Regions from separate parts of the Homo sapiens genome. Here region 2 is linked to region 1. The links come from fine-mapping of genetic effects on gene expression. Tissue or cell type: fibroblasts. Region 1 holds a variant in brackets; the other region holds the start of a gene. All regions are shown on one strand. Distances are from middle to middle.

Region 1 (10,540 bases):
AATTCACAGAAAGTAAAGCAAAAGCAGTTCACTCAACAGTTTACATTTCACAGGTAGTCACTGGCAACAAGAACACACAAAAGGAAAAAGGAAAAATGGAGAAAATATGCTAAAAACAAAACATATCAAGTGCACTAAACTTGTACAATTACTCACTTTTAATTTCCCCATGTTACTATAATAATTTTCCATATTCTCAAAGAAAATAGGCTTAGAGAAACTAAGTGAATCCCTAAATTTGAAAAGTTAGAAAAGGGCAGAGTGGTGATTTGAACTCAGGCAGGTTGACTTCATGCCCTCAACCACAATACAACCTTGTTTCCAAAATGTATATTCTCCACTTAAAAGAGAGGTCTTAGGAGGATAGTGTAGGCTCACTCTCAAGGATAAATATGTCCTGAACTGTCTTTCAGAAAGGGTTAATTTGCAATGACCCAGTTACCATTCCATTTGTGGTCTTTATGTAACTGATCAACATGGGTGTCACCTATGGTGGTAATGAATGATCCAGCTACCTGACACATACACGAGTTGAACCTTGGCTTCCTTACTATAATCAATACTCCTTTAGAAAAATGCGGAGCTTTAACATGAAAGGCTATGTGCTATAAAAGACATGGCTATCTAAGTACATATGGCACCCTGATCTCTTTCCTTCATAACTAGAATTAGGCTGCTCCCAATAATAATGGCTTAATCTTCTTTTTTGGAGAATGTGGATATTCCTGAACCTCTGGCTTAAATCTATCATAATCTCACCCAAAATGCCCACCATCTGGCAGGTACCAGCAGGCTAGGTGAGTACACGTAACGGTCAACTGGCATCTGTGGCGTGAGGATGCTTGTGGAGAGCTGCTCTGGATAAGGCATCCCGTATTCATACCTATCATATTAAGTGGGGATTTTGTGGAGAATCACTCAGGCAAATCAAGCAAAAAGACCAATTCCCAGTGTTCTGCTTAATGTAATTTCAAGGTACCCTAAGTATCACTTTTGGTTTATGATCGGTGACACTGAGTGGTTTACATTTTAAACGCAGATAATGGTTTTACATGTGAGAGACTCAGAAATGACTCGATGTTGTTAAGATGTCTATTCTACCCAAATTGATTTACAAGATCCAATGCAATCCCAGTCAAAATCTCAGGATATCTTTTGGTAGAAACTAACAAGCTGTTTCTAAAAAGGAAAACAAAGTTGGGAGGCTAATGATACCTGACTTCAGGAATTATGATGAAGTGACAGCAATCAAAATAGAGTGGTTGCAAAGAGACACAAATGTATCAACGGAACAAAACAGAGTCCAAAAATAGATCCACACATACATGGACAAGTGATTTCCAAGAAAGTGAATAGGCAATTCAGTGAAGGAAGGGAAGCCTTTTCAACAAATGGTGCTGGAACAATTCATGTACACACACAAAAAGAGATTTTGGTTTTTTTTTGTTTGTTTTTTGTTTTTTTGAGATTTTGGATCCACACATGTCATGATGTACAAGAGTCCTCCTTATCTGCAAGAGATACATTCAAAGGCCCCAGTCAATGCCTGAAACCAGATAGTACTGAACCCTATATATACTGTTTTTTCCTATTCATATTTACCTATGATACAGTTTAATTTATAAATCATAAAATAAAATATTAACAATAACTAGTAATAAAATAGAATTATAACATACTGTAATAATAGTTATGTGAACATGGGCTGTCTCAAAATATTTCACTGTACTATACTCACCTTTCTTCTTGTAATGATGTGACATGGTACAATGCCTATGTAATGAGATGAAGTAGGGTGAAAGACGTATGCATTGTGACGCAGCATTAGGCTACTACTGATTATCTGTATTCTTGAATCTGTGTAACTATCCCTCACTTGGTGTAACTCATTTCAAGGGATCCCTTGCTCAAGTCGTCATATAGGCTGAATGATTCTGGCACAACACATTGCTGTCAATTGGAACATCTTTTTGGTTCGTATCTTCCACTCACAAATTTACCTTTCCACCTTAACTAAGCACTTAATACACATTGTGGCCATAACTTTTGCAGTTTGAGGTGCAACAGCAAGACCAGCATAAATTTACTTGTCCTGTTTCACAATTTCATGGATAGATTTGTTCTTAATCTTAGCAACCTCAGCATATTTTTCTCTTTCCTTCTTAAGTCAAGAACGTTCACCTTTTCATTTAAAGGAAGCACTTTCTATCTTCTCTCTGGCACATCCTAATTGCCAACAACACTACTCCTATACTTTGTGGTCATTATTAATTAAAATAAGGGTTACTTGAACACAAGCACTGAGATACTGCAACAGTTGATCTGATCACTGTGAACCTCAAAGAGCAAATCCCTCAAGATGAATCCTGAGGGGCTAACTGAGTCTAATGGTCACACATGTACCCCAAGTTTCCAGAAAACCTACACATCTGTTTAACTCCGAACCTTCGCAGCTTACCATTCCTGTTCAGGCCACCTGAACCAACAGACTGTATAGCCTGCACCAACCAATCAGAAATCACTTGCACTGAGCAACCTGAACTAAGCAAGGTGGACTCCTTCATTTGAAAAAATATACCTGAATGCAAACCTGGGCAGAAAGATGCTCTATAAAAGCTCCATCCTTCCTTTGTTCTCTGGAATACACCTTCATTTTACAGGGCACAAGGGATGGTGCGAGATTCCATCACACTACTCAGGACGGTGCACAATTTAAAACTGATGAATTATTTACTTCCGGATTTCCATTTAATGTTTTCGGACCACAGGTGACTGAAACTACAAAAAAATGAATATGCAGGTGAGAGGGGACTACTGTGAATATGTCAAAGCATATCAAATTATATATCTTAAATATTTCCCATTTACTATATTTCAATTATATCTCCATAGAGCTATAACTTAAAAAAAAAGTCCAGCACAGGGTAGTTTGGGAGTTAATGTAATTATTATCCCAATCTGACCTGCCTCAGGGCATCTGAGGACAGCACAGTGCCCTCTAGTAAGCAAGGAGGTCTTCAAGGGTGTAGTTAAAGCTGTCATGGCCATTCTCACTATCTTCCTCCCACAAAGCTGGTGGCTTTAAATCATGATCATAAAGCTAAATCATGTATAAATGACAATGTTTTTTCTGTTCTATAAAGCAAGCTGTATCTTATCCAAAAGTGCATCAGATCATTAAGAAACAAATTCAAAAAGAGAAATGTACTGACTTTTTAAATCCCATTAGAAAGTATTAACTATGCCATCCCAGGACATTCCCACAACAGTGACTCACAGAGGCATTCCCTTACAGATTCAGAATGAGTAGTATGTTGCAATCTGGATTTAGCTTATGCTTCTTGGCACATTAACTGATTGCTGTCCACTGAGTCTTAGGAAAGGTTGACCAAACCCGAAACAATCTAACATTACTCTTCACTAGTGCTCTAGAGGCTTGTAAGGAGCGCAACAGTAGTCTCTAGAGGAACAGCTGCATCCGGAGCTTGCATGCTACTCATATATGATGACTTGAGAAACATTAGCTTTATTGGTTTTTAAGCAAGAAAGCGACACACGTTTTAGATGAAATGTTCACTCAGGGGAAATAAAAGAGTTTATTTATCTAAATAGGTTAACTATATTGTGTCTAACCACCACCCCAAAAATGTGATGAACTGCACATTTGAGATGTTGGATAATTAATAGAAAGGGGGGCCGGGCATGGTGATTCACACCTGTAATCCCAGCACTTTGGGAGGCTGAGGCAGGCTGATCACGAGAGGTCAGGAGTTTGAGACCAGCCTGGCCAACGTGGTAAAACCCCATCTCTACTAAAAATACAAAAGTGAGCTGGGCGTGGTAGCAGGCAACAGTAATCCCAACTACTCGGGAGGCTGAGGCAGGAGAATCACTTCAACCCAGGAGGCAGAGGTTGCAGTGAGCCAAGATCGCACCACTGCACTCCAGCCTGGGCAACAAGAGTGAAACTCCATCTCAAAAAAAAAAAAAAAAAAAATATTAATACAAAGGGGAAGAAAACAGGGTTGCTGCCAATGATGGAACTTAGTAAAGTATAAACTTTTCAGGATAAAGACAGATGAGTTGTTTGAAGTGAAAGGAGAAGATTCCAAGGACAGAAAGATTAAGAGTTTACTGAGGAAAGAAAGAATCAAAAACTTGGGTTGGCAATAGAGATGAGAGGTCCCACACCAACTAAGTGACAGCCCCAGATTGAAGCCAGACACCGTCCACTCCAGAGCCCATGTTCTTAACCATCCTACTGACCAACTCCTGCATGCCATCAGCAGCACTGACACATGGGCCTTCACAATGGACACTTCATGAGACTGGCAGTGTCTCTGCAGCTGTCCTCACTGTGTAGACAGCACAGATAAGACAGAAATAGCGGCCACAGAAAACGTAACATTTATGAAGCTTCTCTCATATGTAAATGTTAGAATCTAGAATACATCATTGTAAAGAAGAAATTATTTCGAATACACAGCATATTCTATTTTCTCTGTCTTCACATGAAGGTGATAGATATAGCAGAGACAACAGGCACATACTATAAAATGATTACCCTAGTTAAATGTTTTTATGCAGAAGTCATATTCATTGGGAATATAAAATAATATAGGTCTTAGCAGCAAACGTTCAGTTTAGTATTAACTATGATACATAAAATAAAATGAACAAAAAGACCATGCAATGCAGAACATTAAAAGCACTCTGGGGCAAAGGCAGGATGCAGGGGGCTAGGTCAAGAGATCTGGGGTGCGGGTTAGCTGTAAATAACTTAATTATTCCAAGTCCATTTCTTCATCTATAAAATGCAGAATAATTCCACTTGCCCCAACAATGTCTCAGGTCTTAGAGGATTAAATGAGAGAGTGTAAAAGAAACTGCCAAGGCTCATACACAAACGTAGGGGGAGTATTCTCATTACCACTGCGTTCTCTCTTTCAGAGATGTCAACTACGTAATCCCTTCACTTGGTTTCAGTACTACAAAAGATGGAACTTCTATTCAGCCAAAGCTTCCACTAAGGTATCTGAATAATTTTTTGGTATCCTTAATCATATCTAATTTTTTTAGTATTATTAATTTTTTGGCAGAGACAGGATCCGACTCTGTCACCCAGGCTGGAGTGCAGTGGCACGATCACAGCTCACTGAAACCTGAAACTCCTAGCCCTGCCCCCTGAAATAGGTGGGACTACAGGCGCGCACCATCACATCCAGCTAACTTTATTTTTTGTAGAGAAGGGGTCTTGCTGTTGCCCAGGCTGATCTCAAACTCCTGACCTCAAGCAATCTTCCCACCTCAGCTTCCCAAAGCTCTGAGATTACAAGTGTGAGCCACTGCACCCAGCCGATCACACGTAATTTTGACTGCTGGCACATGAAATAGAGGATTACTGGTTTGTAAATTTTCACATCTTTTTTTAAAGTTTGCTCTCTACACACTGCAAAACATTAGTGACATTATGCTAAAACATTCTTTATAGAAACTCGCATTTTGTCCTTACAAATGATTACACTGATTTTTTAATTCCACCCCAAGGCCCACCCCTCAAATCTGGGAAATAACAATGTTATAAGACTTTTTAAGAGAAAAAAAAACTTTTATTACTTACCACTCAGGTTTTCAGACATATTTTTTGCATTGGAATATCTCCTTTCACCCCTGAAGGGTACTGAACAATAAAGGTGAAGGACTACAGTAAAATGTCCCGTATTGATTTTTAAAGGATGTATTAATCGTCTTTTAGTGTCATGAGATCATGTGGAAAGAAAAGCAATGTGAAATCAGACCAGGCTCTCCTGGACTGATAGAGGAGCAGCCGCTGCCCCTTACATATATAACCCAGGAAATTTTTTTTATTGTGACTAATCCGTTAGACATTCTATGTTCTACATTTTTTGCTCAATAAAATAAATAAATAATGAGGTAAAGATACACTTTCATTACAGAACATTCTATTGTCTATGTAGGTTCTTGGGGAGGGTAGACGAGTTTTTAAAAGGCAGTTTAACATTCTTCTGGCTCTTATTCACAACTCTAGACTACAGATTTCAGGGAAAGGGGAAGACAGTGAGGACAAAGAATCTGTTCTAATTTAAACATTCTTCACGATTTAGTGGCAATTACTTCTTTTAAGGTT[C/T]AGTCACCTTCAAAATATTACACGATAAAAATAAGAGAAAAATATTACATGGTTCATAGCCAAGAACATTAATAAGAGTACTTTCTAAAGTATAATCATTATTTTCATTTTCTATTTAAAATTTTTCATTTTTTATCACCTCAGTTGCCAAATTTCAATCTTCATTGATTAAAAACACAGCAAAACTCCTTGCATACAGATTTATTCAGGTTTGCAAACATTAAATCATCATTAGATTAGAATGACAAGCATGACAAAATTAATACAGCAGAAGAGGTTCAGGGAAATATAAAATCTAAAATGTATTGAATTAGGTTTTAAATTGAACCCATACAAGCTTAAGTTCAATGAAAACCAATATTGCACACTTTTTAATCAATTATTTCGTAATCATCCCTCTAAATCCTTTAATTTACCGAGAAATCCTATCTAAAAAGTTTTCTAAAGTCAGCCATAAAATACCACTGAAATGCAAATTGGGTCTAAACTTCCACTAAGTCCATCAAATGTCAGCTTACTTCATCAAATCACTTTACATAAATGAATCTTAAAAATGTCTTCAGTGTTCATTAATGTTACAATTAAGAACCATATTATATTGAAAATAAAACAACCTATTTTGAACAATCATGGATTTAAACTCTTTAAAATAACTTATCATGCAAATCACATGATATTAAGCTCATTTATAACTTCTAAACAGAATTTAAACCTCTCCAAAGTTAATGTTTAGGCCAGAGCAACAGTTCTGCTTTTTCAACTACATCCAATAGAAGAACCTTTGTTGCTTCCTTTAACACAATCTTGTTAACAAATGATCACTGGAGAGGTTAGGGCTGGAAATATAAGTTTGAGAGTAAGTAATCATTGTAAATCCATGAGAAAGCATGAGGGACGTAGAGACTGAATACGAGCAGAGCAGAGAACAAGCCACAAGATGTCCCTTAGAAGACAGGCAGTGGGAGTTGGACTTAGGTGGGGCATGTAAAGTAGGATAGAGATGAGTTACCCTTCACTTCCTCTTTAAAAGCCCCCACAGAGTGCAGTGGCTCACTCCTGTAATCCCAGCACTTTGGGAGGCCGAAGCGGGCGGATTGCCTGAGCTCAGGAGTTCGAAACCAGCCTGGACAACACGGTGAAACCCCGTCTCTACTAAAATACAAAATAATAATAATAATAATCATAATCATAATCATAATAATTAGCTGGGCGTGACTGTCTGTGCCTGTAGTCCCAGCTACTCAGGAGCCTGAGGCAGGATAATTGCTTGAACCCGGGAGGCAGAGGTTGCAGTGAGCTGAGATCAAGTCACTGCACTCCAGCCTGGGCAACAAAGCAAGACTCCGTCTCAAAAAAAAAAAAAAAAAAAAAAAAAAAGGCAGTCCCCTTCATAAGTCAAGTATCAAAATAGGTGGATTTGGTGATCACACTGGAATAGATCTCTCCAGTATAATCTGTTTTAATGCCTAATATTTTGCTTTCTCCCAATCACTATCTTCCATAAATAATGAGAAAAAGATTTCAAAAAAAAAAATACAGAGACTTTTGCAAAATTATTAAGAATCACAATAACTAAGAAATCTTTAATTTATTTGAAGCTGAACAAGTTGCAATGAACTAATCAGAAAAAGAATTACATAATTTGGTACTTTTGGGATATAACTTTGTATCTTATTAATGGGATCCAGACGGAGATTTGACAGTTAGGAAAAGTATTCAAAAATTGTTGTAAAATTTTACTTCATCATCTTTCCTCTAGAAAACTCACCTGTGAGATGAGAAAACATGAAATAAACACTGCGATGAAATGGCCAATTCTAACCTGTATCTCAGTTTTCTGGGCTCAATGAGGAGTCTTGGCAGGCTCCACTAGGGTGTGCTCTGTCCCCCCCCATGATTCTATCTACACTCCCTGCAGATGGTTCCAACTCTGAACCCCAAAAGCAGATAGGCCTGGGTTAATGATGGCAACAACTCACACCTCACAGGGAGGCAAATCGAGAGAACTGGTTAAAACCATCCACACTCGGTAAAGTTGGCTTGGGCTGAAACCCCAGCTTGGTTACTTAGCTGGCAAAATGACCTTAGGTGAGCTACTTAACATCTTTGAGCCTGAGCCAGAGATGTCCCATCTACAAAATGGAGATAATACTTAAGGAGCTGTGAGGATTAAAATGAAAAACATGCAAGATCCTTAATAAATGTTAGCTGTAGTTATGACACTCCGTCTTCTCCAAGAGAAGTGGTTGGCACGCGAGCTACGCAAACTTCCTCAGGGTAAACCACAGTGGCGTAGGGCACATAGCCTCAAAACAACAGGGAGGACACCTAAGTAAAAAGTCCACCTCATATACCAAAACCAAGGCGAACAAGGTGGAAATTCTCTTACAGGCTCCTGATGAAAGAAAAATCATGTTGACATATTCATCTGCATTAGAAGAATTTTAAAACATGATTTCCTAATCTTCTCTCCATCACGCTGACTCTTTGGCCTGGTAGAGTGAGTAGTACAGCTACTGAGCCTTCAAAAAGAGAGGAAAAAAAAATCATCACAAAATACGCCAAAATTACCAGCAAGAACAGGTCATAAGATGAGCCCATATGGATAGATTTTGCCTTGTTTCTGTTTCATTGTTGCACCTCCTTCTATTGACTGCACAAATGGAACACTACTTTAAATCATCAGATCTGTGGGATGAAAATTCTTAACACTTCCTTCTTAATGCATTGCGGTAGTTATGCGCAAAGTATCCTAACAAAAGTTAAACTTATTAATAAATCATTATATTTACAATATCATGACTTTCATGTAAAACTGTGTCTAAAACACATATTTCTGAAGTCAACCACGGCTTGTATGTACTCTGTAAGGTTGTCAAGCTTGTGATTTACAAGAGCCATGTTCAAGATGAGAACGTCTCAAATTTACAATAGTATTCTTTTTTCCTCCAAGCACTGACTATTGCTCTTAAAATTTTTCTGAATCAATTGAGCTGGAATGACAAAAAGATTTCCAACATGTTTGTATTTGATGTTGGTCCCTAAAGCCTGCCATACAAAGATTAACCATTTCTTGGCCAGCCAGTCTTTAATGTAGCAATTCACTTAGTCATTGTGCTAGAAAATTGTTTCTATTTCATATAAACCTAAGGAAGAGGAAGAAGAAATAGGGAAAGAGAAAAAGGAGGAGATGCAGACACAGAAAGAGAAAAAGAGGAGAGTTTACCAACCAAATACAATAATCCAGGAACCTTCCTTACCTCTTCTGGAGAAAAGAAATAAAAACAACTTCATCCAATAAAATAAAATAAAATACTACTGGAAATAAAAACTTCAACCCCTCCTCTCAAGAGACGAAATGACTAAACCAAATATCAACTAACACACACCTTTTGAAGTGTGAAAGCATGTGTAGATTACAGCAGTCTGGTTTAACATTCACTTGAAGCTGGTTGAAACTAGAGGGTTGAGGCAGATAACTAGATAATGTGGACGAAGCCAGGCATATTCTCTGACCTCCATCTGGTTTCACTTGGACTTGCTAAACACCGTACTGTCACACTTAGAATCCACTGGTCAACTTGAATTATGTTGACTGGAATCTCTGGGGATAGGTTTTGCAACCACGAAGAATCCTTGTTTGAGAAAATCTTCCTCTAAAATGAATGAAAAACTGCGTAACTTGGATAGAAACCTCAACACCAATATAAAAGAATTCAAAGATTCTAGTCACTCTCTTCTGTAAGTGAATATTTACAAGTTAGTAATAACATGCTATGAATCTGTACAAGAATGAGGCTCAGCCATGAAATTCTTCCTAGAAAAGCAATTTTTCAGGCTGGTTTAGGAGAAATCTCTTTCAGATGAAGAAAAATTCTATTTGTGGATTATAAAAGAATTTTGTTGCCATATTTGTGGAGGGAAACTGACTCTTTCAAAAGCAACTTAAATGTGGGTATCCATCTATTTCACAACCGGATCAATCAACACTCTTCTATGACAGTGCAGGCTACAGTCTACACTGGGAAGACAGCAAACCTAGGTTCCTATTAAAATTCAAGTATTACCTTGAGCCAGACACAGGTTTTTCTATGCGAAACCTAGCAAAATATGTTTCTTCCCTTCGGTAGTAATCTTTTAAATAACTAAAATAGTTACCTAAATTCAACATGAATATATAACAAACTACTATTTCTTCCTACTACATTAATCCTTTGAGCTTGTTTACATGTTAGCTTTTAGGATATTTTGCCCCCTGGAGAATTCACATCTAGGAATAAGATTGCCATAGTACAAATCAACCTTTTGACACTGCTACATCAAAATTCTAGTAGCAACAGATAAACTGAAACTGCCTACAGTCATTCTTGACTGGGGCAGGATGACATGCTG
Region 2 (10,540 bases), 140 kb after region 1:
ACTCCCAGTAGTCCATTCTGGGGTGGTCTAATCTCTGCCAACAGACCATCATGAAGCTGGAATTCATGTTATGTTATGAAAGAAAAATTGGGGTAGGGGAATACATCAAAATGGTGATAGTCATTTTCTTAGAGGAGACGAATGTGTAGATGGAAGGGGTTACATACATCCCTCATCTCTATTTTCCAAATTATGTAATTTTTATTTTGCAATCATAATCGTAAATAAGGTTTATCTAAAACTTGAGGTCAGATTACTCAATACTGTTTTTAGAAAATATCAACCACCGTCTTTCCCTTTGGTACAGATCTGATTGCTGCCCATTTTTCCCTCTCCTTATAAAGGCAGAGGCTACATGGGAAACGCTCCAGCCCAGGGGTTATGAACTCAAGTTATGTTCAGACTCTGGATCAGACTTTTCATTCTGGCATCACCACTCCTGGTCCTGGGACCTCAGGAAAGTTAGTTAACATCTGAATGCCTCAGTTTTCCCATAGGTAAGATGAGAACAAAAATGCTGTCTACCTCTCAGGAGCTGCTGTGAAGAATAAATGAGCACTTAGTGCTTGGCACGTAAAGGTTCAATAAAGGACAGCTACAGGTGGCTATGCAGACTGCATAGAGGGTAATAACTGCTTATTGTTGGATTTGGAAGACAGTAACCAACCAAGAGACCAGTTGTCTGTTAAATACCCAGTGGCCTAATAAAATTTAATTAACTATCTGAGCACTCACTAAGCAAGACTCTTTATTAAGATGATATTCAAGTAAGGGAGTCTAGAACTCAAGTTCCAGTTGAAACTCAAATTACAAAGTTGTAAAGGGAGTAGGTTAGGAGGAGGGGAAGCAAAGTACTTCTGGATTAATGGAAAGCAACATGGGCCCAAAAGGAAGCTAGATTTGTAGTGAACTCAACACTCTAGCAAACAAGTGGCAGAAATGCCTAATTAGTACACCCTGTCCAAGGCTGGGAATTGGCCTGAGAAAAGTGACCCAGACCACAGAAAAATCAGGCTAAGGATGACAGAGAAATTGAGTGACATTATGGGATTAACCAACACGAGGATTAAAAATAAAAAATAAAAAAAGTAACACAAACATACAAGAATCACTTGAGGAGTTTTTAAATGCATGCTTCTGAGAACCAACTGGTCTGAGGTGGAGTCCAGATAACTGTATTTTAAATTTTCACCAGTGATTCCGATGTACACCTCAGGCAGCACAAAGCAGGGGCTCAACAGTTTCAGTAGGAATAAACGATACATAAGTGAAAAGCTAGTGTACTCTGTTGAGTTTCAAATCATGAACCTGGAACAGGTGTAAGTGAACACAGGCCCAAGGTCCATAAAAGTCACTGCAATTGTTGGGGGAGGACAATAAGCCCAGGAAGGCATGAAAGGGAAATCAAGCCATGTGGCCTCACGTAAAACCATTAGAGCAGTGGTTCTCAAACTTGGCTAAACATGAGAATCACCTGGAGGGAGGAGGGGGTGTCTCAGCATCCTGATGCCCAGATCAAACCTCAAGTTTATTAAAACCAATTCTAGGAGTGACATCCAGGCATCAGAAGTTTAAAGCTCCAGGTGATTCCAATGTGCAACCAAGTTTGAGAAACACTGGGCTAGAGAGTTTCCAGGAAGTCAGCAGGTGTCTGGAATAGGGGGAAACACAAGGTAATAAGTGAGTAGTTCTCGAATTCCAATGTGTATTATAATCACATGGAAAGCAAATGTGGCTCATGGAAGAGGAAGAGTAGGTACTCTACAGCTTCATCAAATTCCCCAGGTGATTCTAACACATACCAAAGCTGGAGAACCATAGGTCCAAGTGGAGACAATTTCAAATGAGAAACTGAGGACTATGAACAAACAGCCCCATGGACAAGAACATTCCTATCCTTTCTAGGCCTGAGGAATGCAAGCTGAATCTAGGAGGTCTACTGAACACTGCCAGAATCAGTAAGCCTGTAAAGAGTCCAGCAGTAAAGCTAAAGGCACCACGGACTTCACACATAAGACTGCTTATACATCTTTAGCCTCAGAAGTCATCCTTCCAAACCACTCACAGCTGGCTCCTTGGTGGATGGCATAAAGAAAGCATGTGTTGCCACCTGCCTTCCAGAATTAAAGACTTGGCTTTTTAGGAATCCGGGAAAGTCACAAGCAATTAAACACACAGCAATAAGCAGAGCATACAACTCAGAAATTCTCATCACCGCATAGAAAGAAGAAACTCCAGGGCATATTAAAGTTACATTTGGAAGACCTGAACCTGGCGGTTCCCATCATGATCAGTTACATAGAGGGTCTGTAACCTAGGTTATAAAAATGTAACTTTTACTGATCAATGTCGCACGTTTTTTCTCAAAATACACGACCTAGCCTACTTACATGAGGTGCAGAGAAATTAGTCATAGCTTCACCTAGCTACAATGTAATAATATGGTACTTAGGAGGCGCTCCAACGTAGTGGTAACTATTCCATTTAGAATGTTACATCTGATAAGATTCAAGAGAATGCACTCCTGCACATATGACCAACTCATCATCCCATCAGAAATCTCTTATAACAGCACCAGAATTTTCATTTTCAAGATACATGAGCTTTTGTCAAATGGTGACATCTCCTCTGTAATATGAATTTTCAATACGATATAAAAAAAGATGGATATATTACACATTTCACAGAGCAAAGAGAACAGAAACCCGTCAATGAACTTAAAATTTGTGACAACCTATCTGAAATTTTACACTAAAAGATCTGTACACTTTCATAAGCCATATAAATGTAAAACAGGTACCAATGTTTTTACTGCCAAAAAGGAATAAAATATTCCTAACAAAGTTCGGTTGTTGCCTTAATATATTTTTAAAATGTATTTTCATTAACATTTCAGTTGTTAAAATGCAATGCTTTACACAACCTTCAAAGTGCAACTGATAAAAACTTGAAATCTATGTAATATACTTCAAAACAAAGCCACTGGCAGATTTTTTCCCCACCATTTCAGTCTGTGCACCAATCTTCAAATGTATGAACGTACAGGTCTTAGTGCAAAATGCAAGTCACTGTTTAAAAAAAGAAAACTTAATAAACACATTATTTTAAAGGTCATCCTAAGTGATTTAGATTTCTTCACTTGAACCTGGTTGCTCTAACAATCTACAGATCCCACTGTACAAAATGACTTAATAAATGCTTTTCTTCCAGAGTAAGTCATTAAGCAAAAAGCACAAATAAGTGAAATGAAAATTTTCCAAGTAATGGAGGAGTTAAATTAACCAGAAATATGGCAATTTGTTTTCATGTAGTAAAACATAAGAGGGAGCATTTATGAAAGCTGGAGGGGGGTGGAGGGGCACAATTTAGATAACGTTACATAAGCATCAATAAAAAAAAGTATGAGTTCGTTGTTAAGCTATTGGATGATAGTTTTGAGCTCAGACCTTTAAAATGTTACAACATTTAAGTCATGTTACTACACATAAATCATCTTCACAGGACACAGAACACAGCTAATTTAAGTTTAATGCTCTCATCTTCGCCAATCTCAGAATATCGAGTTCCTTACCATGATTGTTCGTTAGCTGTATCTTGGAATACAACTAAGTTAATTTTCCTAAAACTACCATCAGCAAAACCAGTTCACTAATGTGTTTTAAAGACGTTACCAAAGGACGTATTAAAATAGTTATTTCTGGGTTGAGGGGGGTGTTTTGGTTTAAAGACCAGCAAACTTCAAAAGAAAACGATGCTAGCTGGCAGGGGTACGTTACGGGTTTTGTCGGGGGCGGGGAGGGGGTGGAGGGAAGCCCAGATTTGGGAAGGAAAGCTCGTTTCACAAGAGATCCCATCTCTCGTTTCAAAAGGTCATTTCCATTCAGCAGATCCTCTTTCCCTATTTCAGAGCTCACCACTGTATTCTAAACAGAAGCCAATAGAGGGAGAAAAACAAAGCCAAGTGCAAAAGCTGTGGGCACTGAAAGTTTTGCTCCACCGGCCGCGCAGCACCCACTTGGGGTCGGGCTTTGGGACTTGGGGGAGTCAGGAGCAGGCGGGGGCTGGGGAGAGGACGAGGCCCTGGGGAGGGGCTGGAAAAGGCTTTTCACAGCGACTGGCACTTGATATTTCCAAGTCTTCTGGATGTCACTCACCGGAAACCAGACCCTGCGGTGCGAAGACTCAGGTACAGACCAGCCCCTTTTTCATCCATGCAATGGGAAGGGGACTCGGGCATCCTTTTAAGGAGCTGAGAAATGGGTCCTCAACTTAAAAATTTTTGTTTGTGCTACTGCGGTATAAAAAAAATAAAACGCAAAGTAGCAGACGGGGTGCAGGCTCTACGGGGCTCCGTTTCCCTCTCCTCCGAGTCTGGCGTGGAGGAGCCCCTGGGCTCCCTAGAGCCCCCAGCAAGGCGCATCCCGACCCGGGCCGGGAAGCGGGGGGACCCCGGACACACTCTCGCTGCTCAAGTTCGCGCCTCCGCGCCCCGAGGCGACGCCCCCGGCCCGCGACCCCGCGCGCACCTACCTTGCGCCAGCGCCCGGAGCAAGTGCAGCTGCAGCGCCAGCAGCGCCCACCAGCCGCGGCGGCCCGGCCCCAACTTTGCCGCCCGCCGCCCGCCGCACCGCCCCGCGCCCGCCGTGTCCCCGCCGGAGGTCTCGGGCGCCGCCCGGGGTCGCGAGGGCTCCGGGCCGGGGCGCGGCGCCAGCGAGGGGCGGGCGCGGCCGGGCGGGGATCCCCGCGGCCGCCCGGGGCCCGCGCGCTCAGGGGGCTCCGCGCCGCCGCCGCCGCCACCGGCCGCCGAGGGCCGGGCGCCCCGGGCCATGCCGAGCAGCCGCCACCCCGAGCGCCGCGCCGGACGGACGGGCGGGCAGGACAGGCGGGACGGCTCCGAGCGGGCGCGGCCACTCCGCGGGAGGCGCGGCGCCCCCCGGCCCGAGGTGAGCGGCCGCCCAGCGCTGAGGGGCGGCGTCCTGGGTCCCCGCGTGAGGGGCGCGGCGCGGGCCGGGGACGAGCCGGGCGAGAAGAAGTTGTCAACGGGGGAAATTCGCGTCCGGCGCTCACGCAGTCCCGAGCCCGCCGCGCTAGCTCCGAGGGGTCCGCCGGGCGCGGAGGAGCCGCCGCCGCCGCCGCCCCCGCCCGGCGCTGAGAAGAAAGTGCGCCCGCCCGCACGTCGCGGTCGCGCTCGCCCTCAGCTGCCGCGGCCGCCGCTCCCCATTCACAGCCCGGCCGCACGCGCCGCCCGCGCCCGCCGCCCGCCGCCCGCCGTTGATTGGCCGAGGGAGGCGGCGCCCGCTCCCAGGGCCCGCCCCCCAGGCCCTCGCTTGTTTTCAAAGTCGCGGCGCCCGCCCGCCTGCAATTTTGTGCCGGCCGCGGCGCCTGGCTCGGGCGGCTTCCCGCGCCGGCTGCGCCCCCTAGGGACCCGTAGTGGGGACTGCAGGCGGCGTCGATTCGGCACGCGCTCCCGTGGCGGGCTCGCGGGCGGGGGTGGTGCATCCTCGCCCGGCCCCGCAGCGGTGCGGGCGCCCGAGTGGGAAGGGCTCAGGTGCAGCAGGACGCGCAGATCGTGCGGCAGCCCAGGGCCGAGGGCGGAATAGGGCGCGCCCCGAGAGGCGCCCGGCTACCACCAGCTAGCTCAGTGCTTGGGGGTGACGCGCCAAGTTACCGTAATTGCAAACACGCGCAATCGGGTTTTTAATTTCTAGCAACCAAAGGCACCACTGGGTGCAAACTCGCCTCCTGTTCAGAGGAGTGGATATGGCATTGTAGAAGCGTCCAAGGTCACTTTTGGCCGGCGCTGGAGGAGGGCGGGGTAGGGAGGGACACATTGCAGGTTTCCCACCGTGGAGTGGGCGAGTCTTGGGGCAGGGTCGGCCAGTGGGAGGGTCTCCCAGGGCGGGACCCGGGAGCCTGTGGGGCTGGGGGTGGGGACGGGCGCCGACGCTCAGCATGTGGTAAGCATTAGCAGAGTTTATGGGGTGAACTAAGCGCACTGGAGGCTGAAAGGCCAGCATTTTTGTGGGAGGAGAGCTGGAGGTGACACGCACTGCCTCTGGAGTTGGCCCGGGAGGAGCCTGGGGACGTGTGATGATGGTCGCATGAGATCATGTAAGAGATGAACGCAGAGGGGCTGGGTGTGAGCCCAGCACGGGGCTGACTCCCCAGGAATCACCTGATGCAGTAGGTTTATTGTCCCAGCCAAGAAAGACCCCGGGCGAGTGGAGAGCAGGTCACAGGGCTGGGGTCTGGGATAGGAGCCAGCTCCTGCTCACAGAGCGCCTATGGTATTTGTCAAATAACTGATTGGTGGCTCAATATTAGCCTCTGTACACGTCCCCTAAGACTTAACAATGACCACGTGAACAAAACAGGGAAACTGAGGTCCAAGTACAGCCGCCGAACAGGAGGTGGTTTCAGAAAGAGGCCTCCCATCTGCCCCCTTTCCACACCATGCTAGGAGGGGCAAAAAAGTTAAAGGAGCCACGGAGTGCCCTGTTCTGAGGATATAGTGAGGGCGCATAGATGGGACGAGCCGGAAGAGGACAGCTCCCCAAGGACATGGGGATGAGACTGGAGGCAGAGAGGCATGTCTGTTTTTATCTTCTGTTGGTAGCAAGGCTGGGTTTCTTCAAACTTGCAAGATTATAATGAGAACCTGCTGGGCGGGGGGAAGCAATACCTCCTGTGCAGTGAGCACTCACTGTAGGCCAGCCCAGGGCAGCAGCAGCAGCAGCTTCACTACCTGCTGTGTGAGAGGTGCTGGCCCTGGTACAGATGGAGAAACTGAGGCATAAAGAAGTGGGCCGGGCGCGGTAGCTCACACCTGTAATCCCAGCACTTTGGGAGGCCGAGGCGGGCGGATCACTTGAGGTCAGTTCAAGACCAGCCTGGCCAACATGGTGAAACCTCGTCTGCAGTTAAAAAAAAAAAAAAGAAAAGAAAAAAGAAAGAAGAAAATGAAGAAGAAAGACAGAAGAAGAAGATGATTAGCCAGGCGTAGTGGCGTGCGCTTGTAGTCCAAGCTACTCGGGAGGCTGAGGCAGGAGAATTGCTTGAACCTGGGAGGTGGAGGTTGCAGTGAGCCGATACCTTGCTACTGCACTCCAGCCTGGGCGACTGAGTGAGACTCTGTCTCAATAAATAAATAAATAAATAAATAAATAAATAAATAAATAAATAAATAAAGGAAGTGAAGTGTTTTGCCCAAGGTCGGGAGCTCACCTCCCTTCCTCTTCACCCCAACCACCTCTGCTTTGCTGGGAGATAGAGGCTGGTGATCCAAGAGTGGAGTCATGGGGCTTTGAGGTCTCACTCAGCTCCGCCCTTTGTAGTTGTGAAATTTGGGCAAATCGCTGACTCCAAGTTCCTGTAAAAAGTTAGGAATAATTCCCATCTCCAGGGTAGTAGACAGAGTGAGATAATTCACACTCAGTAAATGCTGGTTTTCCTTTCCCTCTACTAACGTGGCAATCCTTGTCCCAAACTACCCTTGCTCTCCCCGCCATTTGAGTTTGCTGCACATTTAACCTTTTCCTCTCCAGTATCGATCTATATCCACCACTTTCACGTAGAAACCTGTGCCCATATACCGCTCCAGTCCACATAGGCACGAACATAACTCAAGCAACTTCTTGACTTTAGGACACGTCAAAATTACCCAGAGCCTCTTTTGCCATGACTTATTTTGCAGGTAGCAGAAAGCTTTGTGGAAACTTGCTTGGAAATTGGAAAGCCAAGTTAGTATACACCAGGTTATAAGAGATCAGTGACCAGGCCAAGTGCAGTGGCTCACGCCTTTAATCCCAGCACTTTGGGAGGCCAAGGTGGGTGGATCACTTGAGGTCAGGAGTATGAGACCAGCCTGGCCAACATGATGAAACCCCATCTATAGTTAAAAAATAAATAAATAAATAAATAAATAATTAATTAGCTGGGCGTGGTGACGGGCGCCTGTAATCCCAGCTACTAAGGAGGCTGAGGCAGGAGAATCGCTTGAATCCAGGAGGTAGAGGTTGCAGTGAGCCGAGATCGTGCCACTGCACTCCAGCCTGGGTGACCCAGTGAGTCTCTGTCTCAAAAAAAAAAAAAAAAAAAAAAAAAAAAAAGACAGATCAGTGACCTCACTGTTACTACAGAAGGTCTGGAAACCTCTCCAAGAAATTTTTTTTTCTTCCTATCCCAATATCAGCCTTGAGAAATAAGGTTCTACTCTAATCTCCATTCTACAGTTGGAGAAGCCAAGCCTAGAAAGTTTAATACATGCGAAGCAACCGTGCTAAAGCCAGAACAAGCATCCAGCTCTCCTGAGTCCTGTTCTGAGACTTGTTTTTCCTCGCCCCGACCATGTTGCTTTTCACAGGACCTATTAGGTTACCATTTTGGGGCCTGTGTTTAGACTACAGCTATTCTTTCTCAAACAATAATACAGAGAAACCCCTTTATAATGCTGGGGAGGGGAGACAGCCAGGAGGGGGCTGGAATATTTCTGCCCTTAAGGCCAGTGAATCTCTCAACTTCATTTTGCCCAGCCCTACAAGAGGGCCTCAAGAAGTGAGCATTTTATACCTGCATACTTGCCATTAAAAATTGTAACCATATACGCTAAAGGCCATGAGGTGGAGGGATGTTACTCCATGAAAACTGATTATTATTATTTCCCCTTCTTCTTCTTCTCCTCCTCCTCCTTCTTCCTCTTCCTCCTCCTCCTCTTCTTCCACTTATTCGTCTTCTTCCTCTTCCTCTTCTTCTTCCTCTTCCTCTTCCTCCTCCTCTTCTTCCACTTATTCATCTTCTTCCTCTTCCTCTTCTTCTTCCTCTTCCTCCTCCTCTTCCACTTATTTGTCTTCTTCCTCTTCCTCTTCCTGTTCCTCTCCTTCTCCTTCTTCTTCTCCTTCCCCCAATGAGCCCTGGCCATCTCCTACTTTCCAGAATAAGAAGTTAGAATTTTCCCTGCTTAATTAAAAAGAGAGAAGGAAGAGTTTTCAAAACAGATGATAATTTTCACGTCGTTAGGATGATCCATGAAACCAGCAGTGCTTTCCCTTGTTGTGATTTAAAGCCTGCTGCTCCAGGTATGGCCCGTGGGCCATCTACCTCACCTGGGAGCTTGTTAGACATGCAAAATCTCAAGCCCAGTCCCGGACCTGCTGACTCATACTCTGCATTTTCAAAGATCTCCAAGTGATTCCTGTGTAAATGAAAGTTCGAAAATCACTCATCAATCCCGTTGAGTCTGAGGAATATAATAGAGCCCTCATTCCTCTTTTGCTTCATTCTGTCCTTTCTCCTCCTTTTTCTTATGGGCCATCACATAAAAGAGAACCTTTTTTAAATGATAGAAATATTTTTATTTTAAAAGGACAATTTGCAACTTTCTAGAACATCAGTAGCTTGAACTGTATACCAATTCAAAACCAAAAGCATCTGTATGGCACTGTGAAAAAAAACTAACAAACTGGAGAAAATGTTACTATCTATGTTAGTCAATAAGACTTACAGCTTTTATGAGTCAATAAGAAAAATAGATGAACAAGCCCTATAGAAAAATGAGCAGAGGCTGGGTGTGATGGCTCAGGCCTGTAGTCCCAGCACTTTGGGAGGCCAAGGAGGGAGGATCACTTGAGCCTAGGAGTTTGAGACCAGTCTGGGCAACATAGTGAGACCCTCATCTCTCAAAAAAATATATAAATAAATAAATTATCATGTGTGTGTAGTCCCAGGTACCCTCGAGGCTAAGGTGGGAAGATCACTGGAGCCTGGGAGGTTGCAGTGAGCCATGATTGTGCCACTGCACTCCAGCCAGGCCACAGAGCGAGACTCCATCTCAAAAAACAAAAGACCAAAGAATAGTAACAGGCAGAGAGATATAAAGAGAAAATAAATGAAGAGATGCACCAAGAAATTGATTTTTTTTTTTTCTGAGACAGAGTCTCACCTGTCACCCAGGCTGGAGGGCAGTGGTGTGATCTCGGCTCACTGCAACCTCCTCTGCCTCCCAGGTTCAAGCGATTCACCTGCCTCAGCCTCCTAAGTAGCTGGGATTACAGGCTCATGCCACCATGCCCGGCTAATTTTTGTATTTTTAGCAGAGACGGGGTTTTGCCATGTTGGCCAGGCTGGTCTTGAATCCTGACCTTAAGTGATCCACCTGCCTCAGCCTCCCAAAGTGCTGGGATTACAGGCGTGAGCCACCGCGCCCAGCCAGAAATTGATCTTAACAGTGAAAAATTAAAGCAACGAGGCTTGTAAAAAATGTTTAAGGACTGACTGATAATGGCAAATGTGTGGTAAGACTATGAGGAAATGAGCATTCATTTATTCTTAGTGTAAGTACAAACTAAACAGCTGCCGTGGAGAGAAACCTGCAATCCATAGTTAAAATTTATTTGTTTGTTTTTTGAGACAGAGCTCGCTCTGTCACCCAGGCTGGAGTGCAGTGGTGTGATCTCGGCTCACCCCAACTTCTGCCTCCCAGGCTCAAGCGATTCTCCTGCCTCAGCCTCCCGAGTAGCTCAGATTACAGAGGCGCGCCACCATG

Direction of the effects. Positions count from the first base shown, and alleles are read on the strand shown. Sizes are in standard deviations (SD) of each study's normalised expression.
In carriers of allele C in region 1, the expression in fibroblasts of the gene that starts at base 5,163 in region 2 tends to be lower than with T alone (moderate effect, 0.65 SD a copy in GTEx).

The links. PIP is the estimated chance that this variant, and not a neighbour inherited with it, causes the effect.
Region 2: it holds the start of SDK1, and the variant in region 1 is fine-mapped to the expression of SDK1 in fibroblasts (GTEx, PIP above 0.99).

What each region holds. Positions count from the first base shown.
Region 1 is chr7:3,432,307-3,442,846 of GRCh38, reverse strand. The region is part of intron 1 of SDK1 (sidekick cell adhesion molecule 1); the gene reads right to left. LOC124901577 (a long non-coding RNA gene) reads right to left here. Exons shown (of 2, transcript XR_007060196.1): 1 at 8,538-10,540; 2 at 1-2,778. Among named protein-coding and RNA genes, the nearest start is that of SDK1-AS1, 85 kb to the right of the region's middle. The variant C/T (reference allele first, on the strand shown) is at 6,149.
Region 2 is chr7:3,295,875-3,306,414 of GRCh38, reverse strand. It overlaps SDK1 (sidekick cell adhesion molecule 1), which reads right to left and starts at 5,163. Exons shown (of 45, transcript NM_152744.4): 1 at 4,531-5,163. The coding sequence starts at 4,828. SDK1-AS1 (SDK1 antisense RNA 1) reads left to right here. Exons shown (of 3, transcript XR_001744897.3): 1 at 1-4,186. RefSeq lists enhancers at 4,362-4,862, 5,572-6,083, 6,084-6,596 and a silencer at 5,137-5,686.